Homo sapiens: one gene and its partners. The protein of the gene in region 3 interacts with the protein of the main gene of each other region in a pairwise test. Each region holds a gene or a part of one and is shown on either strand. Other genes may lie near its edges. The genes, in order: CYB5D2, RNASEH1, TMEM11 and BIK.

What was found.
Region 1: the proteins of TMEM11 (region 3) and CYB5D2 interact in binary tests that used the Homo sapiens proteins (3 or more experiments, as listed by UniProt).
Region 2: the proteins of TMEM11 (region 3) and RNASEH1 interact in binary tests that used the Homo sapiens proteins (3 or more experiments, as listed by UniProt).
Region 4: the proteins of TMEM11 (region 3) and BIK interact in binary tests that used the Homo sapiens proteins (3 or more experiments, as listed by UniProt).

What each region holds. Positions count from the first base shown.
Region 1 is NC_000017.11:4,139,100-4,146,198, forward strand, and holds the start of CYB5D2 (neuferricin isoform 1 precursor), read left to right. Parts: upstream 1-4,097; 5' UTR 4,098-4,656; coding exon 4,657-4,906; intron 4,907-5,011; exon of another isoform or gene 5,012-6,760; coding exon of another isoform or gene 6,761-6,968; intron 6,969-7,099. Other genes in the region: ZZEF1 (zinc finger ZZ-type and EF-hand domain-containing protein 1), read right to left, coding at 3,443-3,796. UniProt on the Homo sapiens protein: Heme-binding protein which promotes neuronal but not astrocyte differentiation.
Region 2 is NC_000002.12:3,548,316-3,555,335, forward strand, and holds part of RNASEH1 (ribonuclease H1 isoform 1 precursor), read right to left. Parts: intron 3,994-7,020; coding exon 3,829-3,993; intron 2,158-3,828; coding exon 2,058-2,157; intron 798-2,057; coding exon 743-797; intron 410-742; coding exon 325-409; intron 1-324. UniProt on the Homo sapiens protein: Endonuclease that specifically degrades the RNA of RNA-DNA hybrids.
Region 3 is NC_000017.11:21,211,159-21,219,162, forward strand, and holds the start of TMEM11 (transmembrane protein 11, mitochondrial), read right to left. Parts: upstream 3,004-8,004; 5' UTR 2,995-3,003; coding exon 2,933-2,994; intron 70-2,932; exon of another isoform or gene 1-69. UniProt on the Homo sapiens protein: Plays a role in mitochondrial morphogenesis.
Region 4 is NC_000022.11:43,105,984-43,113,755, forward strand, and holds the start of BIK (bcl-2-interacting killer), read left to right. Parts: upstream 1-4,766; 5' UTR 4,767-4,820; intron 4,821-7,772.

The DNA of each region.
Region 1 (7,099 bases), about 17 Mb from region 3:
GGAAACTCTCAGCATTATAATAAACCATGCGCACCTTCTCCCTGGACCACACCTACCATGAGAAAAGGTGTGTTGTACTATAAAATGATAATGTTTCAGACTTTGGTCCATGGTCCAACTCCAAGAACTTCTTTATAACACCTCCTCAAATAACTGAGGTCACAGGAATGTGAAAGCAAGACAGCTGCGTGGACACCAATGGCAGCGTAAGTTGGGAAGCCAAAGAAGAAACATGTAACACTTGGAAACTCTCAGCATTATAATAAACCATGCGCACCCGTGGCTATCTGTTTTACCATGTTAGCTCTTATAAAAACGAATGACGGAAACAACTTGTCATTTTAGTTGCTACTATAAAGACATTACTTCACAAGCCCTTCATCTTGCAGTAAAATACAGCAGTATATTCTCAAAAGCTTAGACGTAGATTAACAACGCAGAATTAACTGTGTAAGTATGCACAAAAGTATATACTTATTCAAGTCTAAGGATAGACATTCTTAAAGCACAGAATCAAATGCATGGCTAAATCTTATCTTCTTTGGCTAGTCCTAACTTACTAGTTCTTACAGACAGAGCAGCCATCACAAGATTATCATGAGAGACGGTGGCCACTGTGAGATTATCACAATCAGGTTTTTAAACCTTGGCTAAGCCTCACTCACAGAACTGTATGACCTAGCTATGTGAATCAAAGACTGCCAAATATAACTCAATGTTTTCTCTCCCCTTCCTCAATAATTAAGCCCTGAGTTTTAGCTGAATATATGGCCACGGAAAAAGAATCTTTCCCAGCCTGTCCTGCAGGTAACTGCGGCCATGTGACTGAATTTTGGCCTGTGGGATGTAAGCTATGCCCGTAAGAGAGTGGGCATGGCTTCTTCCTTCTCCTTCCCTTTTCCCTTTCTTGCTTGTTGGAATGTGGAAAATGACAGCAGGAGTCAACAGAATTACTAAGTGGAAGATGTCCGTGGAGGATGACAGCACAAGATGGACGAAGCCAGGTCCCTGATGATGACAACACTGCCACATCAATCTTGGACTGCCTACCTGGACATTTTCATAAGGAAGCAGCTTCTTTTTATGTTTAAACCACTGATGCATTAGGTTTTCTGTCCCTTGAAAAAGTTTTGTGTATCCCTAATACACCACACCAGACTTCTTCCAGATTCTCTGGACTTTGAACTTTTGTGGATACAATTTCCTCTGCCTGAAACGCTGTTACTACCTCCTGTAACACTATCTGCTTTCACCATTCACCTGTGGGCTGAAATGTTACCTTCTCAGGTAAGTCTTGCTTGAGCCCCAAGTGAGGTTAAATACACTTGCTATTTATTCCTTATACCTTCCCCCTCGGTTAACACTCACCATATCTTATAATTAATGGGTTAATACCTGTCTCTTCCACCACAACTACATACTCTTTAAGAGCAAGTATCTGCTTTGTCCACTGTCATCCAAGTGAGTGGCACTCGATATACGCCCAATAAACATTTGCTCAGTGAACAATAATGCCACAACCCCTGAGTGATTTCTGGACCACACCTCAAGTATTTCTTGACCTTCTATTAAGGGACTCCTATGAACTCTACATAAAGTTCTATTTCTGTCAGAAACTCTCAGAATGTAAACGGTGTTTCTCTCCATTTGCCTTTGCTCAAATCTGCAAAGTGCCATCTCCTTCAACAGTTCTGCATGGTTCTTCCCACTACTACTTCATATTCTCATAATACGCGTAGATACTAGAAAGAAGGTACTATGTGTATTCCTGGGGGGAAAAAAAAAGGAGATCTTTCACTAACTAATATGACTTTTTTTTTTTTTTTTGAGACAGAGTATCGCTCTGAGGCCCAGGCTGGAATGCAGTGGCGTGATCTCAGCTCACTGCAACCTCCGCCTCCTGGGTTCAAGCGGTTGTCCCACCTCAGCCTCCCAAGTAGCTGGGATTACAGGCACCCGCCACCATGCCCAGCTAATTTTTGTATTTTTAGTAGAGGTGGGGTTTCACCACGTTGGCCAGGCTGGTCTTGAATTCCTGACCTCAGATGATCCTCCCGCCTCAGCCTCCCAAAGTGCTGGGATTACAGGCGTGAGCCACTGCGCCCAGCCATGACTATTATTTTTAAGGGTTGGGATGCCTTAAAGGTACTTTTTTCATAAGAAACACACAAACTACATTATCTGAATTCTGGCCATGTACAGGAAGACATTCTTAAAATATTTTAAAAGCCTCTGATTTTAAGGTGAACAGAACCTTTTAAAGGCACTGCAAGTACCCGCTGGTTTACTGCTTTATGTACACACCCTTCGTGGCCACTGAAGATTCTACATGACTGGCTAACTCATTTTCACAAAATAAGTACCTTTTTGGTCATACCGTGGTGTTAAAAGAAATAGGATCCCAGGAAGGAGGTAGTGAGACATTAAAAACAAAAAATAGGGTGCGGGTGGAGGGAGAGAGAGCATCAGGAAGAATACCTAATGGATGCTGGGCTTAATACCTGGGTGATGGGATGCTGTGTGGAGTAAACCACCATGGCACACGTTTACCTATGTAATACATCTGCAAATCCAAATCCTGCACATGTACGCCTGAATTTAAAATAAAAGTTGAAAGAAAGAAAAAAAAAAAAAGCAAGAGATCTAGTTGATAGTCTGTTTTACTAATGATTCACTGGGTAACCCTGGATCAGTCTTCTTAACTCGAAGTGAAGCGCCCAGTAAATAAACTCCCAAAATGCCTTCCAAGGAAAATATTTTGTTGCCAAATCAATTTGCTCTCTTAATGACTTAGCAGACATGATCTTGGTGATTATATGAAGAACTGCATAATTACAAGTATTCACAGGAAACCTGGTATTTGCCTATCAGTTTCGGATCCTATGAAGGTTTAAATGAGTCTAATATATGGTTCTTTAAGGATCTACAAACCAGTATGTATTTTAGAAAAGCTAGTTTTTGCATGAGGAGGATAGGTTTTAGAATGTGAGCCTTTCCAGCATGTTACTACTGTCTTTCCACACTTATTCGGCGCCCACACTGAATTGGGAAGGTGCTGTGTAAAAACCTGGACAGGACAATACAAAAAATGGTTCTCAGCGCCACTCCTCCTATCCTTACATCTCTTTTCTCTCCAAACTGTTCGAGAATCTGATAGAAGATCTCCAGAGTAGCGTCAATCAACTGCACAAAGGTCTGCATTACAACATACAGAGAGAGACATATGGGCTTGTCCAGCTCTTCAGAGCAAGGACGGCCTGATGCAGACTTTCCAGACCTCTAACATAGGTTAAAGAGAAACGAAGCAAACGCCTGGTGAAAAGCTGGAAACACCTCATATGGGTCCCCGCCTGGCCTCTCCAAAGCAAATGCCCACCTCTTCCTTCAGTCCCCTGGGGGCGACCGCCCTGCCCCATCCCCGCAGTCGCCTGCCGGCCCTGACCTCCTCGAACTGCTCGCTAGAGCAGCCGGCGCCGCGAGCCTCCAGCAGCTCCCGGAACTGCTCCAGAGTGACAGACTCTTCGCCGCGGCCCAGCCGCTCTTCCAGCCAGCGAAACAACGCGCCGCGATGCCTCGACACCAGCGACTCGCAGGGGGGTGTGGGCAGCAACGCTGCAGCAGCCTCTCGCAGCCTGGCCGGCTCCAGCAGCGCCGCGGCGGGTGGTAGCGCTGGAGCCGCGACGCCCGGGCCGGGGGTCGTGCCCGAGACCGCGGCCCAGTCCTGGTGTGGGCCCCAGCCCTCGCCACCGGCAGCTGCCGCTTCGTCTTCACTGCTGTGACTCGGAGCGTTCCCCATGGGGTCTCCGTCTTGGGCGCCTGGCTCTGCAGCCGCCGCCGCCGCCTCCCCGCCTCGACCTGTCAACCTCCGACAGCAGCTGGCGGGCGGGGACGCGGAGGAGACGACGGCGGCCCCTGCGGCTTCCGGCTTCCTGGCCGTCAAGCGACGACCGCTGTCGCAAAGGCGCCGTCACGTAGATAGGCGGCCTCTACCAACTCACGACAGCTAGGCGGGGAGCGCCGCCTCAAAGGGTGCAACCTTGATTTCCCAGAGGACGAGTCTGTCTCAGTATCTACGTCATTCCGTAGCCTCCGCTGCCGCCATCTTTGTTGGGGCTGACAACCTGCAAGCCAAGAAGTACGAGAAGGGCCAGGCGCGGTGGCTCACGCCTGTAATCCCAGCACTTTGGGAGGCCGAGACGGGTGGATCACCTGAGGTCAGGAGTTCGAGACCAGCCTGACCAACGTGGTGAAACCCTGTCTCTACTAAATACAAAATATTAGCCGGACGTGGGGGCGCGTGCCTGTAATCCCAGCTACTTGGGAGGCTGAGGCAGGAGAATCGCTTGAACCCGGGAGGCGGAGGTTGCAGTGAGCCGAGATTCCGCCAGTGCACTCCAGCCTGGACAACAAGAGCTAAAACTCTGTCTCAGAAAAAAAAAAAAAAAGTACCTGGAAAAAGTCGCAGACAGCGAGCTTTTCGCCAGTGCCAGGAATACAGATAAAACGAGAGAGACTAAGGGAGGGAGCGCGAGCACTAGCGCGCGAGAGAGAGAGCGAGAGCGCGCGCGCCGATGACGTCACGCTCGGCGTCTCGGCCATCTTAGCTGTAGATAGAGGCGGCAACCTCGGAAGTGCGGAGCGGGTGGGCCTATATAGATGTTGAGGTGCGGAGGCCGTGGGCTTTTGTTGGGCCTGGCTGTAGCCGCAGCAGCGGTAATGGCAGCACGGCTTATGGGCTGGTGGGGTCCCCGCGCTGGCTTTCGCCTTTTCATACCGGAGGAGCTGTCTCGCTACCGCGGCGGCCCAGGGGACCCGGGCCTGTACTTGGCGTTGCTCGGCCGTGTCTACGATGTGTCCTCCGGCCGGAGGCACTACGAGCCTGGGTCCCACTATAGCGGCTTCGCAGGTATCAGCGAGGCTGCTCACGCCTTTCTCTCCGCTGGCGCGAGCCAGTAGCCACCTGCGCGTCGTTCGTTGGTTCATTATTCATCTATTTCCCCCCCCATCCCCACCCCACATCCATCAAACCCGTGCGGTGGGCGGGACGAGCTGCATGCACTATCCTTCTAGGCTCTCTGGCTCTGGCGGGACTGTGGGCCAGCTCTGTCATCCACCACCGCCCTGCGTGACTTACATTGGAGAAACATGTCTTCTGTCTCTTGTTACCCATTACCCAGCGTCGGAAGCCCTAGGATACGGGCTGTGTGCCGGACTTTTGTGGGGGCTCTTAGGGCACAGATAAACGAGATCCCGCCCCGCCCCTACCCTCACAGTTTCCTTAATAATTCCAACCATCTCTTCATTATGCCCTGGTCCCAAATAATCTTTCTTCCCCCCACCCCTAAGCATAGTGTTTTCAAGGTTCATCCATGGTTTATGAGCATGCATCAATACTTTATTCCTTTATGGCCCGTCATATAGTACATTTGGTCTGAGTCATTCCTGCTTCTAGTACAAGATGCACCTGTTTGCCTTCCTTAGAAGGTTAGGGCAGAGGAAAGGGGTCCAGTCACCTTTACAGTCCTTGATACGTAGACCAAAGTTGTGCATATGTTAGGCCTCAAGAAACATTTGTCAAATTAAGTTTATGCTGGTGTCCCTGTGTTACAGCTGAGGGGGTTAAAGGATGCGATTTGCCTGAAACCCTCACACCTGAATACTGACAGAATATGGACTCGGACCACCAGTCTAGTGCTTTTTTTTTAAAGATGGAATCTCGCTGTGTCGCCCAGGCTGGAGTGCAGTGGCCTGATCTCGGCTCACTGCAAGCTCTGCCTCCCGGGTTCACGCCATTCTCCTGTCTCAGCCTCCCGAATAGCTGGGACTACAGGCGCCCACCACCACGCCCGGCTAATTTGTTGAATTTTTAGTAGAGACGGGGTTTCACCATGTTAGCCAGGATGGTCTCGATCTCCTGACCTTATGATCCGCCCACCTTGGCCTCCCAAAGTGCTGGGATTACAGGCGTGAGCCACCACACCCGGCCAGCCTAGTGCTTTTTTACAGATGTTGCCTTGCCAGCCAGCGGGACTGACCTCCAAAATTTAAAAAGAAAAAAAAAGTGCAGGGCAAGCCTAAGATCAGCTACTAGGCTGACATTAAATAAGCATTTTCCACTTGTCATTATCTTAGGGGAATTGGGAAGCTGCCTCTAGCACTTAAAATACAAGCCACTTCCCTCTGTCTAGGAAGTACTAAAGAAATACAAAAGTTGACAGAAAAGGAATGAAGTCCAGTTGGTCTCGCAAATCCCCTGAGATAGTCCAGCAGGGGAAGGGACTTACTCAGGGGTACACAGTGAGTTAGAAGCAGAGCTGGGACTGGAATCAAGGTGTTTTGTCGCTGCTAGTTGAAGGCAGTTTTCGTTGCGCTGCCCTGCTGCGTGCTGTGGGAGCTGTCGTTGGATGTTTGCACAAGTGTGGGCATAAAACCTTCGATGTCTGGAGTGCTTTTTATTTTTCAGTGTGCTCTGCTGTTTACTGAGCTCCCGTGTTCTGGTATTCATTGACCATCTTTATTTACCACTACCTACCTTGTGTCAGGGGCTGTGGAATCCAAGATGTCTGCAACATGCTCCCCACCGCCCACACAGTCTAGTTGGGAAGCAGTTATGTCCACGTATTCGTTCATTCAGTATTTTATTTCTCATTGAGATGTAATTCACGTGATGTAAAGTCCTTTTAACGTATACAATTCAGTGGGGTTTTTTGTTGTTTAGAGACAGGGTCTGCCTCTGTCACCCAGGCTGGCGTGCAGTGGCATGATCTTGGCTCACTGCAACCTCCGCCTCCCAAGCTCAAGCAATCCTTCCACTTCAGCCTCCCAAGTAGCGGGGACCATAGGTGTGCACCATCACGTGCAGCTAATTTTTGTATTTTTTGTAGAGATGGGTTTTCGCCATGTTGGCCAGGCCGGTCTTGAACTCCTGAGCTCAAGTGATTCAGCCGCTGAAAGTGTTGGGATTACAGGTGTGAGCCACTGCCCCCAACCTTTTTATTTATTTATTTTTATTTTTCGAGATAAACTGGTTCTTTAGCCCAGGCTGGAGTGCGGTGGCGCAATCTTGGCTTACTGCAACCTCTGCCTCCCGGGTTCAATA
Region 2 (7,020 bases), on a different chromosome or scaffold from region 3:
AAGCATCCCCTACATGCTCCTATTCAGGGCATTTCCCAAAGAAGCAGTCAACACGCCATCTTAAGTGACTTATACACACACAGACTAGAAGTAAGAGCCACTTCCACTTCTGACTGCATCTCCAGTGCCTGGCAAAGAAATAAGCATGTGGAAAACATCAGAGCAGCAGAAGGGAGACTCCAAAATCCTCACTCTTTGCTCGGTACCTGACAAACCAATGTCATCCCCCCGTTCCCATTTGGGTCCTGCCCTGTTACAACACCTCCTACCAATTTCCCTTCACAGTTACTGGAAAAACAGAAGAAATCAAATGTGAAAGCTTACCATTTATCGTAAACATACTGTCTGTATACAGAACCAGTTTATTGATGTTTTGAGTCTTTGCTTGTTCAATGGCTTTGCAGGCTGCCTTGAAAAGACAAGTCGATAGTCATGCTACAGAAAATGTTCAACTCTGACATTACTAAAGTTCAAAAGTACTTCGAAATTGAAACATCCCCTCTGTACTGATTATATTCTCTGTATGAAACACTACTATACATACAATTCTCCTGTGTAGACATCTATTTGAAATAAGTTTTTAGAATTTTTCTACAAAATTCCTATTTTTCAAAATTGTTATTAAACCCGTCTCTCTTCAAATATCTTATATGTATAGGTAGAAAAAAAAAGAATTAGTTTATTTGATAATTTCATACTCAATGCTCAAAAAAGAGAGGCTTAAACGTATCTGATAACTTACATGAATTTCCGCTCTTTGGTTTGTCTGCCGCCCAGGAAGTCTAATGCCTACATTTCTGTTTCAAAACAGTACAAAAGAAAATAAAAGTATAAAGTGAATTCTCAAAGTGATTCTTCTTAATGGATAACGATAAACTAGTGTGTATTCTTATTTGAAATATAAAAGCATCATATAAAAATCAAACTAACAGACTCCCAGCAGAGAGCAGCACACAGGTTTCCACACTTGGGCACCTTCTGACTCTCATGGGTTCCACTAGGGCAAAGGAAGTAAAAGCTGGTTCTCTGCGGACCCTGGGTTAGGCCCTATGGCTGCAGCAGAAAGAATCCCAGGAGAAAACTCGGGAAGAAGAATGGAGAGAGTGAGACTTCAGATTGAAACTACTAAAAACCTCCAGGAAGTAAAAGAGGAAAATGAAATCAAGGAACCAGAAAAACCCTTAGACAAGTTATTTAAAATTTGGGGTCACCAGGAGATCCAGAGTTTCCTAAAAGAATGAGCAATTTTTGGGCCAGGGGTGGTGGCTCACACCTGTGATCTCGGCACTTTGGGAGGACAAGGTGGGAGGATCGCATGAGCCCAGAAATTTGAGCCCAGCCTGGGCAACATAGTGAGACTTCATCTCTACTGAAAAAAGGACTCCTCTTGGGAGGCCGAGGTGGGCGGATCACGAGGTCAGAAGATCGAGACCATCCTGGCTAACACGGTGAAACCCCGTCTCTACTAAAAATACAAAAAATTAGCTGGGCCTGGTGGCAGGTGCCTGTAGTCCCAGCTACTCGGGAGGGTGAGGAAGGAGAATGGCGTGAACCTGGGAAGTGGAGCTTGCAGTGAGCCGAGATCGCGCCACTGCACTCTAGCCTGGGCGATAGAGTGAGACTCCGTCTCAGGAAAAAAAAAAAAAAAGACTCCTCCCCAGGGCAAGAAAGAAACACCAAAGCCAGGTGCAGTGGCTCACACCCATAATCCCAACAGTTTGGGAGGCCAAGGTGGGAGGATCGCTTGAGCCCAGAAGGTGAAGTCTGCAGTGAGCTGTGTTTGTGCCACTGTACTCCATCCTGGGCAACAGTGTGAGACCGTGTCTTAAAAAAAAAAAAAAAAAAAAAAAAAGCAAAGGAAGTAAAGCTGAGGTACCTCACGTTCTGAAAAGCAATGCCGCTTAGCCCCAACACGAACCAAAGCTGCTCCTCTGCCACCCCTGCCAGAGCTACTTATCTGCAGGTTTTCCCAATAATCAAACAATGAGCAGATCCCGCCTCATCTTTTCACAAGTTGTGGAACATGATTCAGTAAAACTCAGCTTCGTTTAACTTACAAAGGATGGCCTGGCCCCCAGTAAACGCCGATTCCTGCTCGCGGCCTTCTACGCCCATTACTGGAGCAGCAGCCATCAGTGTAGACGACGACGAAGTCTCCTGTGGGAAAAGGAAGTACATGCTGCTGGGCTGACCTTACTAAAAACTGAAATTCACCTCAAAAATCCACTAGGTCGACTTAGCATTTTAAACCGAGAGGGTATTTTACAACGCTGCAGACGTTTTCTCTCTAGGAAAACATGCTCCATTCCTTACAAGGGGGCACCTAACATTTATGCTTGGAATCCACTTACATTTTGATCTTGCAGGCCAGGCAAGTTCGGGGTGAAGGCAATCACCTTGTAAAACTAGAGCCTGCTGCAGTAAAAACTACTGTTCACATCCCACACTGTGGGTTCAGAGGACAATGGCGCTGTCTCCACGGCAGGGTCACCTTCACTCCCAGGGAGCCATCCTCCAGAGACGAGCAGCGCCTCAGCATGACGGTGACCCTGCCTGCCAGAGGGCCCAGTCTCCTGACCAGTGCTGGTCTAATTTCTTCCCTGGCATATTTGCTGCTAGTTAAGTGTGGTTCCCGTCTTTGCTTCTTTCCCTCTAGATAGAGGGTATGATTGACACACAAAGGCTGTAAAGAACAAGGTAAAAAAGGACTGACGGGGGCATTCTCAGGCCACTGGTGACCAGGACACTTCAGTAGTGTGGTGGGATCAGAGGTCAGGTTGCACAGTGTTAAAAGAGCTGGGCGAGAGGGCAAATAGAGGTGGTACGCGCAGGAAGTGGAAGTACTTGTCCGAAGGACGGCAGACTGAGCTCAGCAGTGGCGAAGGGGCAAAGATGGGGATGTGCTCCTCACAGGAGCGGGGCTGAGAGCCAAGGGGAGTGTGGGTGTTGGGCAGGGCTCCTCCGTTCAGCTGGAACTTAACTGTATCAGCATGACTACAAGCTTCCCACCCAGCCACTGAACTGTCTCAGGAGCCAGCACCTGCTATCCGCCATGTTCCAGGCCACCAAGCCTCCAGCAATGGTCAGTGTCTGGAAACGGCTCATCTCCCTGCAACTCCACAAATCTTTGCTTCAATTCCTACTAGTAAATCACCAAATAAAGAATACTTGTTTGATCTTTTTTTACGTAACTGCAAAACATATCTATAAATAATACAGCTTGGCAAAACATTTTCTACTGGTTTCCCTTGAATTAAATTAGAACCTATAAATATACTGATTTATATTTTTTAATGCTTATTTCTACTTTCTGCTCATATGTGTAAAAGACACAAAGGAGAATTCTATTCTGTGAGTCACTAAATACATAACTGATTCCTGGAGTGAAAGGTAGCAGAAAAGTTCACTACTACCTTGCTTCTCAGGATAAAATAGAATCTCTTGTTTTCCAAAGATTGAATATGAAAGGTTAAAATGCTGGTGCTAATCAATTATAACAAGCAGCTGCGTGTGAGGTGTTATTTGAAAAAGCTGGAGTCTTCGCATTTCATCTTAACGTTAAGTACTGCATGCACAGGGAATACTAGTATTTCAAAAGATTACAGTTGTTCATTTACATGTAAGGGTTTTCCTAAGAACATCCAAAAGTTTAATTCTGCACTACTTGATTATAAATAATGGCCTTAGTGATTTCTAAATAATCTTTACACATAAGAATGAAGATGATAAACACCAGCTCAAACTCCCCCCATCAAGTGGGAAACACCTTTTACACATAACATTTTCCTGACTGTGGTATTAAAATCTGAAAACCCAAGGAAGATGTACCCATGTAGGAAAACGTGTCTCTGCTAACTGGAGGCGCCGGCTCCACGCTCGGCTTCATGTGCTTTGCATACGGCTCTGCGCTTTCATGTCCATCTCCATCCAGTGGCTCACGGAGTCGCTTGCTGGCTTTCGCCTCCGATTCTTGTCCATGTTGATTTTCATGCCCTGAAAGACAAGAGTCCACTCGTGAGCTGGAAACAATGAACATAACACGAAATGCTAGAGAATGAAGACATTCAGTAAATTATTTAGTATCATTAAATCAGACTTAAAAACACCCTCTCTATGTGGCCCTACAACGAGGGAAACGAGGGAATGACCCCCTCCACGCCATCTCCACCCCCTCCACGCCATCTCCACCCCCTCCACACCACCTCCACCCCCTCCACACCACCTCCACCCCCTCCCCTCCACACCACCACCACCCCCTCCCCTCCACACCACCACCACCCCCTCCCCTCCACACCACCTCCACCCCCTCCACAGCATCTCAATCCCCTCCACAGCATCTCAAGGGGCTCTTTCTCCAGGAAAAACATGGCCCAAAATTGTGTATATAACATCAGTGGTGTTGCTGGGCGCAGTGGTGTGTGCCTATAGTTCCAGCTACTCGGGAGGCTGACATACGAGTATCGCTTGAGCCCGGGTTTGAATCCAACCCGGCCAACATAGTGAGACCCCTTTGCTTAAAAATAGATAAATCTAAAAAAAGATGAGTTGTGTCCATGGTTCAGCCTCTCCCTGCCTCAAATACAACTACATGGACACGAAGTTAAGAACCCCTAGGAGGGCTCAGAGGGTGCAGGTTCATCTAGCTTGAATAAACAGATAATGGGACATATTAAGAAAGGAAAACAGGGCTGGGAAGCCGAGGCGGGCAGATCATTTGAGCTCAGGAGTTCAAGACCAGCCTGGTCAACATGGTGAAACCCTGTCTCTACTAAAAATACAAAAATTAGCCAGGCGTGATGGCGGGCACCTGTAATCCCAGCTACTCAGGAGGCTGAGGCAGGAGAATGGTGTGAACCCAGGAGGTGGAGCTTACAGTGAGCGGAGATCGCGCCACTGCACTCCAGCCTGGGCGAGAGAGTGAGACTCTGTCTCAAAAAAAAAAAGGAAACAGAAACCAGAAACTAAAAGGAAGCAACTGGGTCCCTTCAGGGTCAGTACTCTTGCAGCTTTTCTTTTGCAACAAAGTTTTTCTTCTGCAACGAAGTTTTTCTTCAGGGGGACCTCAAGGTTAATCCCAAATAGTTTTTTTTTTTTGAGACAGAGTCTTGCTCTGTGCCCAAGCTGGAGTACAGTGGCGCGATCGTGGCTCACTGCAACTTCCACCTCCCTGGTTCAAGCAGTTCTCTGCCACAGCCTCCCAAGTAGCTGGGATTACAGGCACCCACCACCACACCCAGCTAATTTTTTTGTATTTTTAGTAGAGATGGGGGTTTCACCATTTTGGCCAGGCTGGTCTTGAACTCCTGACCTTGTGATCCACTGCCCTGACCTCCCACAGTGCTGGGATTACAGGCGTGAGCCGCTGCGCCCGGCCCCAAAGAGATTCTTAATACCACCTCAGGGTTATCTGGGAAGGGCCCATATCTCACTCACTGGGTAATACTATGGCAGCTGAAGTAGAACAGCTAAATTAGACCAGGACTCAAAAAACCAGTTTCAATTTGTGCTATACCTTTTATCAGCTGCGAACTCCGTCAACTGAATTAAACCCTCTGGGCTTCTGTAAAACGAGGCCCTGGGCTAGATGATCTCAAACGACTTTTCCTTACATGGAGTGAAAATAAGGACACAGGAGCAACCAACTACCTGCAAACTAACAACCCTAACCCAACACTACAGGATTCACCTCCAGCTCTCAACTCCTAAACCAGGGATGGAGAAATGGGGCACGAACATCACAGAACGCCTACTAGAAAGGAACAAGAAAATGTCCAGCCTAGTGGAGCTTCTCAACCCACACCTCTCGGAACCCTAAGGGCGCCGGGCAACACTTGACTGTGATCAGCACGACGTCAGCAACAGCTGGCGTTTCCACTGCCACATTTTGTTTTCACACACTCATCTCCAAAACGTTCCTCTAGGTACTCTACTGAAGTAAATGCAGATACTGTGGTCCAGGTTAAAGTGTCATTTTGTAGAACCTTAACACGGATATAAACACTGGTTTTACTTACTATAACAGAGATGGACACTTTACAGAACAGATAAGACTTGGAGGAAAAAAACACACTTGTCAGTTAAGTTTTACTTCACAAAATTGTGGTTTTTAAGTAAATTAACCTTAAATCAGCTTATATAAACCATAAGAACCAGTAAATAGCTCAATAATTCTAAAATAAGGATAAATGTAATGTTAAAAAACAAAAAACTGTAAAAGGGGCTAAGACTTTTTGATACAGATCTGAATCATTAAAGGCACTAAATCTCAATTTATAGACGTAAGTCACTGACTAGGAGGTCTCTAAAGTTTAAAGAAGTAGATTCAAAAGAACTAGCTTGCTTTAAGAGTCAGAGTACTTAATAAAAACAGAAACATACTTATATTGGAAGACTTGAGATACAAATAAATTACTGATTGGTTAAAAACAAAAAATTTGTGAAAAGGAAAACTGAAAAGGAAAATTAAGAAAAGGAAGTATCAGGAACCCAGCAAAGAAGGAAAAAGCCATATTTTCAAACCTGCTTTCTGTCTCAAACTGATTTTTCCATCTGGGTAGAAAAATGAACAGCTGTAACAGCGAGGAGGCGGCTCAGCATTACTGCCTCCATTCTCCCTTAACATCCCCATAGTGGTATCGTATAGGCCGAGTGAACTATGGGAAGAATTTATAGTTTAAAGCAAGGATGACAGTGGTCCGTTCCCAAAACTAACCCCCAAGGAGATAAAGAGGGAGTACACACAAATAACAATGTTATGTTGAAGACTTATAGGAGGAGCATCATGGCCTGACCAAGGACAGAGAAGTTTCACAATCCCCTTGGACCCTCGCTGCCATCCAGATGTCTGTGCTCATCGGTCTCCTCCTGATCTCACCTCCGCCTTTCTTTCCCCTTCCCTTAACATAAAAGAAGTCTCAAGTTCTATTAACTTAAGATGGTTCTTCAGGACACTAGTCCACCATCTTCTTGACTTGCTGGCTCTCGGAAAAAAGTCGCCTTCCTTGCCCCAACACCTTGTCT
Region 3 (8,004 bases):
GAATTTTGGACAAGAATTCAGGTTACAGCTCAGAGTCTGATGTTCTTCATTACAAACACTGTTGGTTCCCTAGATTTAATGGAGTGGAGAGAAAAATCAACATGCAAGCACTACCATTTTGCTATTTCCACCCCTCCTATCTTAGTCGAAACCAGCACTGTCCATATCATAACTTTCTGCAGTGATGGAAATGTCCTCCACCTATGCTGTCCAATATGGTAGCCACAGGCCGGAAGTGGCTATTGAGCACTTGAAATGTGGCTAGTGAGACTGAGGAGCTGAATTCTTCATTTTACTTAATTTTAATGAATTTAAATGTAATTGCCACATGTAGCTGGTGACTACTGAACTGCTGTGTTAATTCAGCACTAATTCTAGAGCTGTGGTTCTAGACTCAACAAGGTAAAGCAAGAACCCACACGCTACACGTGCTAAACTGGACCATCCAACACACAGCGCCGGCAGTAATACTGCAGGCAGTCTGGCACTGGGTGGGACCTTTAAGTACAATGCATGCTTCAGAGTTGGTAGCCGCTGGCAAATCTGGCAAGTGTGCCCAAAGTGTCACTCTGTTCTAGCCCCTTCCCCAAACCAGATAATGTTTCCCTCAGCTTCAGCAAAAGCAGATGCTAACCAGGTGTGAGCAGCAACGGGAGAGAGCACTCGTATAACATGGAGCTGAGATTTGAGTCAGCACGAATGTGACATGGAACAAAGTCATTTTAGAGAGCCATAAACAGCCTACTTCAGTCATAAGAGCCAATAATACACTCAGATCTCATAATCTAGAGTGCTGGGCCATCAGCTAATCCGCCCTGCCCCACCTGAACAGTCATCACCAACTGAGCAGGAATGGAGGGATGCCCAGAAGTCAGCTCGCTAGCCCCACAGCGGGTTATGTTTCCATCCCCTGCTCAGCATGGGAAGAGCTTAGGGAAGCTGGGCTCGGGGAAATGACTCTTCCAACAGAACCTGGCTAGGGGTTTACAGCAAGAGCAAACAGACAGGTAGTCTCCACCCATACCACGTTATCTAGGAGAGTAGATGGTGACATCCAAACTACAAAACCAAATGCCACATTCCTGCTGACACACAACATCTGCGTGTGTGAGTAGAGCCTTCAGTTCCAGGCCAAAGGTGCAACCTGAACACCTACAGAGACCAAGCAGGCAAATGCATTGAGTCAAGCTGACAGGTGATTTGAGTCAAGCTGTCAGGTGATTTGAGTCAAGCTGTCAGGTGAGGAACCAAGAACTGGAACCAAGCACTTGTCCCGACCAAAAAGAGTCAGCCACTACCCAGCTTTTCAGGGAGCGTTTTATATGAAATCTGCTGGCAACTAATTTAAATTCTCTTAAAAACTGTTGAGGTTCAACAGTCAAGGACTGGATCCAGCCTATGCACTGCTAATTTGCAGATCCATTTTGAATAAACAGTTGTCTCAAGCCAAAACAAAAACAATTCTCAGCATCTATTTTCTTAGATCAATAAAAGCTTAACCTGTGCTGGCAAGGCTCCTGTTCCCTGCCTGAGGCATCCCTATTCGGCTCTTTTCAGATGCTTTTAGTCCAACAAGAGGGCGTATGTTTCTAATACTTTGTTTTCTAAACAGGTTATTTCGTATTACTGTTTGCATTGAATATCTTGAAAATGTTTGCTAGTTTTTAAGAGCATCTGAAAACCATTGAGGTAACTTATTTAAATGGTCCAATCTAATACCAGGCGGGAGTTAGAAAAACAAAAGTGTGTTTACCACTGCTTTTCCAAGGAAGAGGAAATGCAGAATGGGCAACGCTGGATAACTGGGCTAAAGAATAAAGTGCAAGCAAGCTAAAGGATTCTATCACAACTGCCAAACAGGAAGAATCTTCCCAGCTGGGAAAGCCATCTGCAAGCAATAGCAATGAACACGGGATGGAATCAGTCACAGAAAAGGAATAATGCAGAGTAGTTGAGAGGAAGATAACTTTTCTGTTAGACAATCCTCACCAAAAAGACGGGGAGGGGGAGAACCAGCAAAACAAAAACTTTTCCTTTTTTGCTGACCGCTGCTATAACAATCAAGCTTTAGCGGACAGTTAATCCAGGTGGCTCCACCAATACATCTTCTCCCAAATTTCTAGTGGCTGAACAGCTTCTAGTGGTTTCCACTAGCTGAAACTGCTTCCCAGATGCAAAAACTGCAACTTGAACATGAAACACGGAAACTACTCCAATCTCATCTTCTAGAAATCAGTTATTCAAATGGAGGTCCCTGTTGGAAGAAACACGCTCCTAGCTCCCTGCCCACACACCATTCATTAGGAAAGGTCACTTTAAAGGACTTCTACGGCAGGAGCGCTTGCACAGAACCATCCAAAAGTCTTCAGAATCTTCCCTCGAGGAAGTGGCCGGCTCTGGGCTCGGAAGAGACACATCTGGCGGGAGCTAAAGCTCCCTAGTAAACGTGCAGATCAAACTACCCCTGCCGCGGCCGGCCTGCTCTGTGAAGGCTTCCCCTTCTTTCTCTCTCCGGGGGCCCTGCCTTCCTCTACACGTCTGGGGCCGCGGCCGAGATGGCCACGCGCGTGCCCAGGCGGGAAGGGTGCTTCAGCAGCCGATCGGCCCGCGGGCAGCTAGGCGGGTCCCTGAGGCCTGCGCTGGGCGCCAGTTCCTTTCAGCACGGCCCGGCCTCGGGCCCCGCCCCGCATGGCCGCTGCCTACCTTACTCAGCCCGGCTAACGCCCCTTCCCCTAAGCTCTCCGCCGAGGCCTTCGACCTCGCTCCCACCCGGATCCCGGATCCTCCGGAACTGGAACCCAGTATGCCCGGCGAGGGTAGGGGGAGCGCGGGGAAACCAGGGAAGGAAGGCTGCTGCAGCCCTCGGAGGCCGCGCTGGGCTCTCCGGCCGCTGAGCCGCCTGCACTGGGGGCAACAAGCCCTTGGATCTCACCTCTCTCGGGCGCTGCCGCCACTGCTGCCCGGGCCAAGACGCCTCCTTCCCCAAGCGGCCATCTTGGAGACACTCTGCTTGCCAACGTCTCGCGCCAAGGCGGCATCGGGAGAGCAGGCGGGCCGACGGGAAGTGTAGTCCGGCCTGCGGTCCGGGGCCGCTCGGCAGGCGGAAGCCAGACCCGGCGGAACTACCGTGCCCACAAGGCAGCGCGCCGGAAGCCCCGCCCCCGGGGTCGCCGGGGCCCGTAGTCCTTCTGCGAGGGCGCGAGGACTCCAGGAGCCGTCCTGGTTCGAGCATTTCTGAAGAAACTGAGTTCCCGGCGTTCGCAGCCTGGGAGTCACAGGCGCCCACCCACCGGTAGGTCCTTGAGTTTCGAGAGCCAGTAGCTGAAGGAGAGAGGAGAGGCAAGTGCCTACAACTCCCAGAGCACTGCGCGGAGGCGCCCGGCCGCGCTGTCCTGGCCGCCAGGCTGCCTCTCCCGCTGGGGGCCGCCGCGCTGTCTGCGGGCTACTAGCGCCGGGCCCCTCCGCGTCGCCACGCCTGCCCTTCACAGCCTTGGCCCATAAGGTCACCGAGGGGCGGGAGGCGCCGCCCGGGCCCTCCTTGGAGGCGGGCGCTGCTCCCGCACCATCCTCCCCCAGTTCTCTTAGACTCCGGGGTACTTTGGAGGCCGAGACAGACACGCTGTCCCTGCTGCCACGGAGGTCCCTGCTTGCAGGTGCAGGCTGTTAGAGGAGAGGGTCTGAAAACAAGAAAGGGGAATAGCTGTATGATAACTGCTTGAAGGCGAGAGGGCCCAGCGACAGCTCTGTTTTAGACAGGGCCTCCAGGCCTCTTAGACTCAGTCCCTGCCACGCACCCACTCCTGCCCTGGCCGCTGCGACGGCATAATCTCGGGATCTTTGAAGGCAGATGCGGGGCTAAACCATCCCACCTGACGGGAACCCTGCCACAGGACCCGACATATCCCTGTCTGGACACTGCTGTAACGAGTCAAAGTCAGGAAGGACTAACTGGAGCCCAGAGATTCCCAGGTGCTGCTGCCTCAGACCTGTGGACTCTTTGGAGGATCTCTTACAGTTTGTGAACTTCTCAGTTCCTCTACTGCTCCCACAGACAACGTTGCTAAACATATTAATTGGTCCCATAAATACTTGAGCAAAACAAATGCGAAAATCTGTCCCGAATTCAGCCTAGAAGAAGCCCAGCCCTGCGCGTCACACTTCTGTGTAGTGGAACCCCCCTTCCCACCCCGCCGCAGGCCACAGCAGGAGGGCCAGCAGACGGAAAGGCGACCCTCTCCTTGTTGAGGATTCCTTTCGATTTCCTTCCAGCTGACATTCTACCACAGTTTTAGCTGCTTGCAATCCTCTCACCGTCCCTCATCACCTACAGTGTGTGATTCAAATTCCTTAGCACAATCAAGAAGCCCCTCCTTAGTTTGGAAGTTGCCTAGCTCTCCAAATTCAACTGCCTACCTTTCCCGTCTGGAACTTGCCAGGCTAGTAAATTCAGAGGGTTTGCAGATACGTAGATGTTCTATGCTTTACCTAAAATGCTTTTACCTCCCAGCCAACTTTTTTTTTTTTTTTTGAGACAGAGTCTTGCTCTGTCGCCCAGGCTTGAGTGCAGTGGTGCGATCTTGGCTCACTGCAACCTCCGCCTCCCAGGTTCAAGCAATTCTCCTACCTCAGCCTCCTGAGTACCTGGGATTACAGGTGGTGCCACCACACCCAGCTAATTTTTGTATTTTTAGTAGAGACGGGGTTTCACCATGTTGGTCAGGCTGGTGTCCAACTCCTGACCTCATGATCCATCCCCCTCAGCCTCCCAAAGTGCTGGGATTTACAGGCATGAGCCACGGTGCCCAGCTCTCCCAGCCAACTTTTGTCCTTCAAGACCTTGTACCTGTCTGGTCTCTAAAAAGTACCTGGCCTTCCTGTTGAGTCATACAGCCCTGCCTCCAAGTGTCAGCGTAGTTCATGCTGGAGACCTCTTAACAGTTCCATGGTATGACACTGCGGATATGGCTGTCTTTTCTTTGTATCAGTGTGGTGATTCAGAGGGTATACTAGGGATTCTAGAACGCACTTCTGGCTCAGGGGCTGCTTGTGTAACTTCTGTTTCTCAGCTGCCTGGTTTGTATCATGGGATGATAGTATCTCCCCTCAGAGGATTGCGGTATTTCATGAGGTGATACGTGTATGGAGGCCAAGTGCTGTTTTATATTTTAAGTGATCTACATCTTGATTTTCACAACAACTGTATAAAAGTGATACTGTTGGCCAGGTGCGTTAGCTCACGCCTGTAATCCCAGCACTTTGGGAGGCCAAGGCGGGTGGATCACCTGAGGTCAGGAGTTCAAGACCGGCCTGGCCAGCATGGTGACACCTCGTCTGTACTAAAAATACAAAAATTAGCCGGGCATCGTGGCACACGCCTGTAATCCCAGCTACTCGGGAGGCTGAGGCATGAGAATCATTTGAACCCGGGAGGTGGAGGTTACAGTGAGCTGAGATCGCACGACTGCACTCCAGAATGGATGACAGAGCAAGACTCTGTCTTAATAATAGTATCACTTTTTTTTTTAATCAACAATCTCATTTTGTAAATGAGGAAATCAACTTACAGACGACCTGAGTGACTTGCTCACACTGCCAGCCAGGAAAGTGCTAGGATTTGAGCCCAGACTGTCCAGTTACAGAGATTACACTCTGCCATTGTGCCTCTCCAGAAGCACTGGAGGTAGGTCTAGTGCATAGAGTAAATGTAAATGCTGAAACAACTGTGGCCCTAATGAACATCCCATTTCTCCAGCTTTTTACTCTCCCCTTAACTTCTGAATGACCGTCTGCTTCTAATCTGCCAACTTGGTCTAAGATCCTCACGGTGTTTCCTCCTGATTACTGTTAATGCACGGAGGTTGTCTGGAAGGTTCATAGGCAGCCTGATTGACTCAGTATGTATTAGCTGAGCACCTTTGGAGGGCACAGCCTGAGTGGTGGGAATTAGTTCCTGGGGGCTGTCCTGCGGTGGAGACTCCCGTGAGCCCTCTGTCCTGCTGTATGAAGGCAGCCAGTGGAAAGGCATGTCCTCGCTGGTGCTCAAAGTAATCTGCTACTTCTCTTACTACACTTTTCATTCATTCATTCTTAAATCGTTGAAGGCATACTCTGCAGGTACTCTTGGGCACAGAGATACGGTGTTTAGTAAGACAAACACTGTTCCTGGGTCTTAACGGGCTTTACATTCCAATGGGATAAACAACTTAAGTAAATATTTTCAGAGAGGAGTACCAAGAAGAAAAGGAACAGGATGATATAATGGAGTGACTTGGAGATCACAGGTGGTAAGAGGTCACTCTAAAAAGGTAACATTTGAAGGCTGGGCACAATGGCTCACACCTGTAACCCCAGCACTTTAGGAGGCTGAGGAAGGAGGACAGCTTGAGTCCAGGAGTTTGAGGCCAGCCTGGGCAACATGGGGAGACCTTGACTCTACAAAAAATTTAAACATTAACTAAGTATGGTGGCACGTGCCTGTAGTCCTAGCTACTGGAGAGGCTGAGGTGAGAGGATCTCTTGAGCCCAGGAGTTTGAGACTGCAGTGAGCTATGTTTGTATTACTACACTCCAGCCTGAGGGACAGAGTGAGACCCTGTCTCTTAAAAACGAAAACCCGACTGTATCAAAAGGTAACATTTGAGTGGGACTTGAAAGAGTGTGCATGCGAAGGACTGAAGACAGAATGTTCTGTGCAGAGCGAATTAATGCAATGGCTTTGCAGTGCAGATGGGCCTGGGGTGGTCCAATAAGGTTAGGACCAAGGTGGCTGGAGCATCATGAGACAAGCGTGGTACTTAGCTTGCCTTTGGTTAAGTCACTTTCTCTATTTGAATTTCAGTTTCTCACCTGTAAAATATGAGTAATTTTATCTGTATTAGCCAGTGTGTAATTAGAGGAAAAACCATTTAATACAGGGTATTGTTTACAAAGGTGTTGGAAGGGCATGAGAAACAAGGGGAGAACAAGGGCACCCAAAGCCTGACCCCCACAAGGCTAGAGGAGCAACAGGAAAATTCGTTTCCAGAGACTGATTCCTCAGCTGCTGAGCAGGAGCCTGGAGCCACACTTGCTGCCTGGTACTACTGACACACAACTGGAACCACCGCTGTGGCCTGGGGTGCCACCAGAAGCCAGAGATTAGAATTGCTTTCCCCATCTCATATCTTCCAAACTCCCACCAGTGCCTCCCACTGGCTGAGTCAGATGACAAGGGAGTCTGGGAAATGTAGTTGTTTGGCTTCCAGCCCTGACCATGGAGAGTATAGAAAGGCAGGTGTAGGGGAGAAAATAGATGCCATTCACACAGCGCCTATCTTGCAGGGCTGTTTTGAGGAGTAAAAACTCAGCCTATTTTTATTCCTCATAGCATGTAGTAGCATTCAGGGAAAGGCAAATCTTCCAAAACAATATCTTAGGTATAATAGTTCTACATAAAGGTTTGAATTTACCATTAAAAGCATCAAAATGAGCATTTTAAAAGTAGAATTTTAAGTCTGAATGGGCAGTATATTCACATGGTATAAAATTCAAATTACAAAACAATATACAGTGAAAAATAAGGGGGTTTTTTTGCTCATCTTCTTGTGACCTGGCTCTTTCCATCTCTGTCCACAACCCTCTGCAGGCAATAACTGGTACCTTTGTTATGGATCCTCTGCAGATATAAAGTAGACATATATTAACAAATGTTTTCTTTGGCCCAGAGGATGCATATTATGCACATTCCTCCATTTCTTGTTTGTTTTTGTTTTTTCCACTTAATTGTATCTTGGAGATCACTCTGTATCAGTATATATCTGATTTGTTTTAGCAGTACATGATAATCCATTGTTTGGATATGCCATAATTGTATCAGCCAGTCTCTGGACAGTCTTTTACTATTTCAAGGAGTGCTGCAGTAAACATGTTTGCGCCACTTCCTGGTACCCATTGCAAATAAAACTGGGATAATTTCCTGACGAGAACTTGCTGGGTCAGAGTGTAGGCACTTGTTGTTTTGATAAA
Region 4 (7,772 bases), on a different chromosome or scaffold from region 3:
GGACAGGAGTTCGAGATCAGTCTGGCCAACGTGGTGAAACCCCATCTCTACAAAAAATTAGCCAGGCTTGGTGGCAGGCGCTTGTAATCCCAGCTACTTGGGAGGCTGAGGCAGGAGAATCGCTAGAACCTGGGAGGTGGAGGTTGCAATGAGCCAAGATTGTGCCATTGCACTCTAGCCGGGGCGGCAATGCGAGACTCAGTTTAAAAAAAAAAAAAAAAGTTTTCAGAGGATGTACAACAGCTCTGTCCATGGAGGGCCTCACAGCTTCGGAGCTGAGTCCAGGCTGGGTGTGCAGAATGCCAGCTGACGGATGTACTGCTGGCCAGCTGTGGGTCGGGGGGCAGCCTGGGTACGCCAATCAGTTGGACGGAGGCTGCAATACCTCTATTTAGGAGCCCTGGGCACTCTCGGAGACAATGGGCATTATTTTCCCTTCAATACCCCTCCGCATGGCTGCTAGATTCCAATTCCTTAACCTCTTGTTCCTTTCCAGCTCAGTGTCCTTCCATAGCTCCCCAGTACCGACAGGATAATTAGGCCACATTCACCTTTCTATTCTGGTTGGAATCCAGTCCCTTCTTTGAATTCCCCTCAAATATCTCCTCCTCCATGAAGCTTTCCCTGATATATTTGTGTCCTCTGTGGGAGCCTGGCGCTTAGTTTTCCCTTGCTTGACGCCACAGTCACTTTCTGTCTGTCCCTGCATTGCCACTGTCTTGAAGGTAGGCATTTGGCATTGTCTCTGGCTTGGCTCTGGCTTCAGTTAAGACCAAACATAGTTTTCTTCCTCTTCTAAAAAAAGATAATGTTTTTGCACGTTTATCTAGACAATCCGGAAAATACATGAAAACACAAGGCAGAAAACTAAACCACGGCTGGGAGCGGTGGCTCATACCTGTAATCCCAGCACTTTGGGAGGCCAAGGTGGGCGGATCCCTTGAGCCCAGGAGTTCCAGGCCAGCCTGGCCAACATGGTGAAACCCTGTCTCTACTAAAAATACAAAAATTAGCTGGGTGTGGTGATGCACGCCTATAATCCCAGCTACTCAGGAAGCTGAGGCACAAGAATCACTTGAGCCCAGGAGGCAGGGGTTGCAGTGAGCCAAGATCACGCCACTGCACTGCACTCCAACTTGGATGACAAAGTGAGACGCTGTCTCCAAACAAAAACAAAAACAAAAACAAAAAAACAAACTAATAGGACCAGGCGTGGTGGCTCACACCTGTAATCCCAGCACTTTGGGAGGCCGAGGTGGGCAGATTCCCTGAGGTCAGGAGTTCAAGACCAGTCTGGCCAACAGGGTGAAATCCCGTCTCCACTAAAAATACAGAAAAAAAAAAAAAAAAAAAAAACATTAGCCGGGCGTGGTGGTGCATGCCTGTAGTCCCAGCTACCCTGGAGGCTGAGACAGGAGAATCTCTTGAACACAGGAGGCGGAGGTTGCAGTGAGCTGAGATGGCATCACTGCACTGCAGCCTGGGTGACAGAGTGAGACTCCATCTCAAAAACAAAACAAAACAAAAACAAACAAACAAAAACTCAATACACCTGTATTAGTATTGAGTTTAATTGACATACCAAAACATGCACAGTTCCTAAGCATTCAGCTGTTTGCATACATATGCACCCCTGCAGCCACCATCTGTGTCACCCCAGAAAGTTCCATAATGCCCCTTCCCAGCCAATACCCATCTTCACCCTGGAGAGGGAGCCGCCAATGTCACCTCTAGCGCCATAGATTAGGTGTGCCTGGTAATGAACTTCATGATGCCCAGAGATGACTACTATTCCCATTTTGCTGTGCTATATTTCCTTCCAGACTTTCACACATGGATTTTTTTTTTTTTTTCTTGAGACAGAGTCTCGCTGTGTTGCCCAGGCTGGAGTGCAGTGGCACAATCTCGGCTCACTGCAAGCTCCGCCTCCCGGGTTCACGCCATTCTCCTGCCTCAGCCCCCTGAGCAGCTGGGACTACAGGCGTCCACCACCACACCCAGCTAAATTTTTTTGTATTTTTAGTAGAGATGGGGTTTCACTGTGTTAGTCAGGATGGTCTCGATCTCCTGACCTTGTGATCTGCCTGCCTCGGCCTCCCAAAGTGCTGGGATTACAGGCACCTGCCACCTTGCCCAGCCATACATGGATTTTTAAAGAATATAGGATTCTAATGGACACAGTGATTTATACAGCATGCCATTTCATTCAATAGATCATGCGATCATGCATCTCCAAGACAGTTTCCTTCGTGAGCTTTTTTTTTTTTTTAGACAGAAGAATCTTGCTGTGTTGCCCAGGCTGGAGTGCAGTGGCACGATCTTGGCTCACTGCAATCAAGGCCTCCCAGGTTCAAGCAATTCTCTGCCTCAGCCTCCCAAGTAGCTGGGACTACAGGTGAGTGCCATCACACCCGCTACTTTTTTTTTTTTTTTTTTGAGACAGAGTTTCACTCTTGTTGCCCAGGCTGGAGTATAATGGCGTGGTCTCAGCTCACTGCAACCTCTGCCTCCCTAATTCTCCTGCCTCAACCTTCTCGAGTAGCTGGGATTACAGGCATGTGCCACCCCGCCCAGCTAATTTTGTATTTTTAGTAGAGATGGGGTTTCTCCATGTTGGTCAGGCTGGTCTCAAACTCCTGACCTCAGATGAGCCGCCTGCCTTGTCCTCCCAAAGTGCTGAGATTACAGGCGCAAGCCACCGCGCCTGGCCTAGTTTTTTAATTTTTAGTAGAGATGGAGTTTCGTCATGTTGGCCAGGCTGGTCTCAAACACCTGACCTCAGGTGATCCACCTGCCTTGGCCTCCCAAAGTGCTGGGGTTATAGGCGTGAGCCACCATGCCCAGCCATCTCTTCCTCCTTTTGATCAGCATATTGTCTTGGGATTTTGCAAAGTAAATAAGTACTGTATTTGCACCCACTCTGCCCTTGAATCATCCAGTGTCCCCAAACGGTCCTTCTTTCTCCATCTTTTCTGCTAATGTTTACTGAACATCTCCTACATACCTGGCACTGTGCCTCCAGCCTTAAGACCCCTCTGCAAGCATCTCACATATATCAGGTCTTTCGGACCCATGAGACCCCGTGTCATTGCTTTACCTCCCTGAGTCTCAATTTTTTCATCTGCAAAATGCATTCAGAGGGAAGCCCCCATTATGAAGGGTTCCCTGCTCCTGACTGTAAGGCACTCTGTGGCTGTTAGCCACAGTCAGGGCGAGCTGCTTTGTAGGGGTTGATGTAGTTTGGAGGCCCTAGAAGAAAAGACTACAGGGCCGGGAGTGGTGGCTCACGCCTGTAATCCCAGCACTTTGGGAGCCCGAGGCCGGTGGATCACCTGGTGTCAGGAGTTCAAGACCAGCCTGGCCAATATGGCAAAACCCCGTCTCTACTAAAAATACAAAAACTAGCCGGGCATGGTGGCACACGCCTGTAATCCAGCTACTAGGGGGGCTGAGGCGGGAGGATTGCTTCAACCTGGGAGACAGACGTTGCAGTGAGCCAAGATTGTGCCACTGCACTCCAGCCTGGGCAACAGGGCTAGACTCTGTCTCAAAAAAACAAAAACAAAAACAAACAAAAAAACCCCACAAAAGCAAAGAAGGTCCAGAGCCCGGAAGGCGGGAGGGGCTCTGAAGACTTTATCACACTTTACCTCCTCTGTTCCTCCCAACAGCCCAGCTCTTGGTAGGTGCTGTTGTCCATTTCACAGATGAGAACATTGAAGGGGAAGTAATTACCCTAGAGGTGGGAAGAACAGAGTGAGGGTACCCAACAGGTAGCAAACGACAGAGCTGGGGGAGGGGAACCCCTGTCCCTGCCCCTCCCCTAATCTCTGAGGGGATCAAGACAGAAGTAAACAAGCTTTGCCGTGCCCAGGACAATTGTTACTTTGTTATTCCAGGAGCGCTCTGCCTTCTCCCACCCCCAATATACCCCAGGGCTGGAGTTAGGTCCTACCCATCCCCGCGTAGCAGGCTGCCCACCCGCCCACCCCGCCTGGAAGCTTTCTGATTTCTCTGTTCGCCCCGCCAGGCGCTGTGGGGTCCGTCTCACCAGGTCTGCACGTGAGCCCCCTGCCCCCAATCCCTCCCAGTCCCGCCCGCCTCTCGCGGACCCGGAGCCCCGACGGGAGGGGGAAGGCAGTGGGTGTGTCATGCAGCTGGAAGGCTGCGGACGGGCGGCAGTGGAGGGGCAGCCCCCTGGCTTCGGGTATGGATCACTGGATGCTGCTGCTAACCAAATGTGAACCTCGGTTTTCATATTTGTGAAATAGGCTTTAAAACACCTAAATCCCAAAGCTGCCAGCCTAAGGAGCACACGTCTTTGAACGCTGGCTTCACGCTGTCATTTAAGTCATTTCGTCCTCTTGGAGCCTCGGTTTCCACGTGGGTAAAATGATCGTGAAAAAAAGCACCGAGGAGTACTTTGAGCTCGAACGGAGGCCATCCGTGTAAAGGGCCAGATTCTGTCAATGGATCGATCCCCCCGATATTGATGGAAACCCCTGAGTGCACGCCCGTGCTGGGCGCAGGGGAAACAGCGACGCACGGGACAAAACAAGCTTGCAGAACAGCAGGGGGCAGAGAGGCTGTAAACAAGCCAACGGGCTGCACTTGTAGCGGTTCTGTTGCCAATGCCATTCAGACCCCAGTCCGGGATTCCGCGCTCGGGGTGCGAGAGGCCGCTCCCGGGGAGGGGCGGGACCCGGGCGGGGCGGGAGGGGCGGGGCGCCCGGGCCTATTAGGTCCCGCGCCGGCAGCCGGGCCGCAGACACGAAGCCTCCCGGGTGGCTTACAGACGCTGCCAGCATCGCCGCCGCCAGGTGAGTGCCCCCGACCCTGCTGCCGCCCGCTGCTCCGCCCAGCTCGAGCCCGGCGGTTAGCGCCCAGGCCGCGGCCCGGGTGCCGAGCGGCTGGAAGTGTGGGGAGCCGTGCCCAGGTTTTACCGCTCCAGCAAGTCGCTGGCGGGGCGACGTCTCGGGACTCCGGCTCCGAAACGTACCCTCTCTGTCCGGGGCTCCAGGTCCCCGACGGGCGATCGTGCCAGGCGCGGCCCCTGCGGGCCTCAGTCTCCGCGCCTGTGCAATGGGGTGGTCCCTCTGCGTCTCGCCGCGACGGCTGGACGCCCCATCGCCGCCGCACAGTCCTCCAGTGCGGCTTCCGGGCACCCGGCTCCGAACTCTGGGGTCGTGCGGACCCGGCCAGACCGTAGCGCGGCAACGCCAGCCCACGGCCGCGGCCGCACAGCCCCGGTGCCCTTAAAAGAGGGAAGATGGCGTCGTGCCCGGTGCCGCCGGGACCGGCTCCCGGAGGCGCTGCGCACCTGAGGAAGGGCCGAGGAAAGGCTTCGTAACGGGACGCCCAGAAAGTCCGGAACAGGAACGTGCACACGGAGCGGCGCGCAGCCGCCCGCCCTCGCTTGCCCACGCGCCCTGCACAGGTGCGCCCCAGACTGGGCGGGGACTAGAGCCCGGCTGGGGCATGCGACCTTGTTTGGTAAATTGGAGGTGCGCCCCTGCGGGTGACCCGCGAGGGGGCCCCCCGCCTGCGGGGCGCGGTCACGACAAGGCTTGTGGGGTTCGGAGCTGGTCGTCGTCTGGGCTCTGGCCTCCTAAATGCGATCGCTTTCAAGCCCTTCATTGTCAATTTTGCTAGAATGAGCCACTCGTGGGGTAGGACGTGGTTGTTGATGTTACTGTTGTAGCTCTTACTATTGTAACATTTTTGTTGCTGTTTTAACGCAGTGTTTACTGTGGTCTGGGAGCCCGAGCTTCCCAGGGAGCATTGGTGTCAGCCTCATGTCCCCGCATTAGGAGGAGCGCAGTCTGGTGGGCACTAGCGCCGGGAAGTTCTTAACATCTGTCTGCCCCTGGGAGCAGGAGGCCTCATCTTCCAGGTGGAGAAACAGAGATTTCAGTCCCAGGAGGCACAGAAATGCCAGGGTTGTCTAGCTAGAAGCCAAGGGCCCTTTATGGAACCCAAGCCAAAACCTCTTTCCACTCTCCAGCCCTGTGGCCTCGGAAGGGCCACTCCATCTCTCTGAACCTCAGTTTGTTCTGTTCACTCTGCAAAATGTATCCCTGAGGTTTCTGGCCAGGTGAAAGCCCCTCTCAAGTTAGTAGCCTCCCTGGAGTTAAGACTCACCCCGATTTCTACTTAATTTGGGCACGCCTTTGGAATAAGTTCTCAGGAATGGCACAGTTTGGGTGTTTTTTGTTTCTTTTTGTTTTTTTTTGAAACAGAGCTTCGCTCTTGTTGCCCAGGCTGGAGTGCAATGGCGCCGTCTCGGCTAACTGCAACCTCGGCCTCCTGGGTTCAAACGGTTCTCCTGCCTCAGCCTCCTAGTAGCTGGGATTACAGGCGCCTACCACGAGGCCCAGCTAATTTTTTGTATTTTTAGTAGAGATGGGGTTTCACCATGTTGGCCAAGCTAGTCTCGAACTCCTGACCTCAGGCGATCCACCCGCCTCAGCCTCCCAAAGTGCTGGGATTACAGGTGTGACCCACCCCGCCCGGCTTGAGTGTTTAAATACTCCTGCCTCAGCCTCCCAAGGTGCTGGGATTACAGACGTGAGCCCCTATGCCTGGCCCTTTTTTTTTTTTTAATTGTCTTAAGGATGTTAAGACTAAGATTCTCACACATTTGACTCGTGCCTGTAATCCTAGCACTTTGGGAGGCTGAGGCAGGAGGATTGCTTGAGCTCAGGAGACTAGACTGGGCTAGACCAGACTGGGTAACATGGTAAAACCCTGTCTCTACCAAAAATACAAAAAATTAACCGGGCATGGTGGCATGTGCCTCTGGTCCTAGCTACGCAGGAGGCTGAGTTCAGAGGCCTACCTGAGCTTGGAGGGGTTGAGGCTGCAGTGAACCCTGATCATGCCACTGCACTCTAGCCTGGGAGACAGAGTGAGACCCTGTCTCAAAAAAAGGAGCATTAGGCTGGGCATGGTGGCTCACATTTGTAATCCTAGCACTTTGGGAGGCCGAGGGAGATGGATCACCTGAGGTCAGGAGTTGTGAGACGAGCCTGGCCAACATGGCAAAACCAGTCTCTTTTAAAAATGCAAAAATTAGCCGGTCGTGGTGGCGTGTGTCTGTAATCCCAGCTACTTGGGAGGCTGAGGCAGGAGAACTGCTTGAATCTGGGAGGCAGAGGTTGCACTGAGCGGAGATCACACCATGGCACTCCAGCCTGGGCCACATAGGGAGACTCTCTGTCAAAAGAAAATTTAAAAAAGCATCAAATGGTAGATCCCCAGTGTCTGTTACAGCTTGGGTACTCTATGGCTGGATAGAGAGGCTGCATACATGTTAGTTATTGTAAGTTTGTTTGTTTTTTTGAGACGGAGTTTCGCTCTTGTTGCCCAGGCTGGAGTGCAATGGCTGGGAATACAGGCGTGAGCCACCTCACCCGGCTCAAGATTCTTACACATTTGACTTGCCTGTAATCCCAGCACTTTGGGAGGCTAAGGCGGGAGAATTGCTTGAACCCAGGAGGCGGAGATTGCAGTGAGCAGAGATGGTGCCACTGCACTCAGCCTGGGCTAACGTGAGACTCCATCTCAAAAAAAAAAAAATTACGTCTTGTGTCACAGAGCTGCAGATAAACCAGAGACTACTCATAACCGTGTACTTTTTTTTTCCCCCATTTCTGATCCCGTCTCAACGGAAGGATGTAATTGAGGAAGGGCTTGATTGGCCAGTGAGTCTTGAAGCTGACACCACTGCTGGTGGTATTTTCCCCTCTCCCTGGAAAGCATCCTGTTTTTAG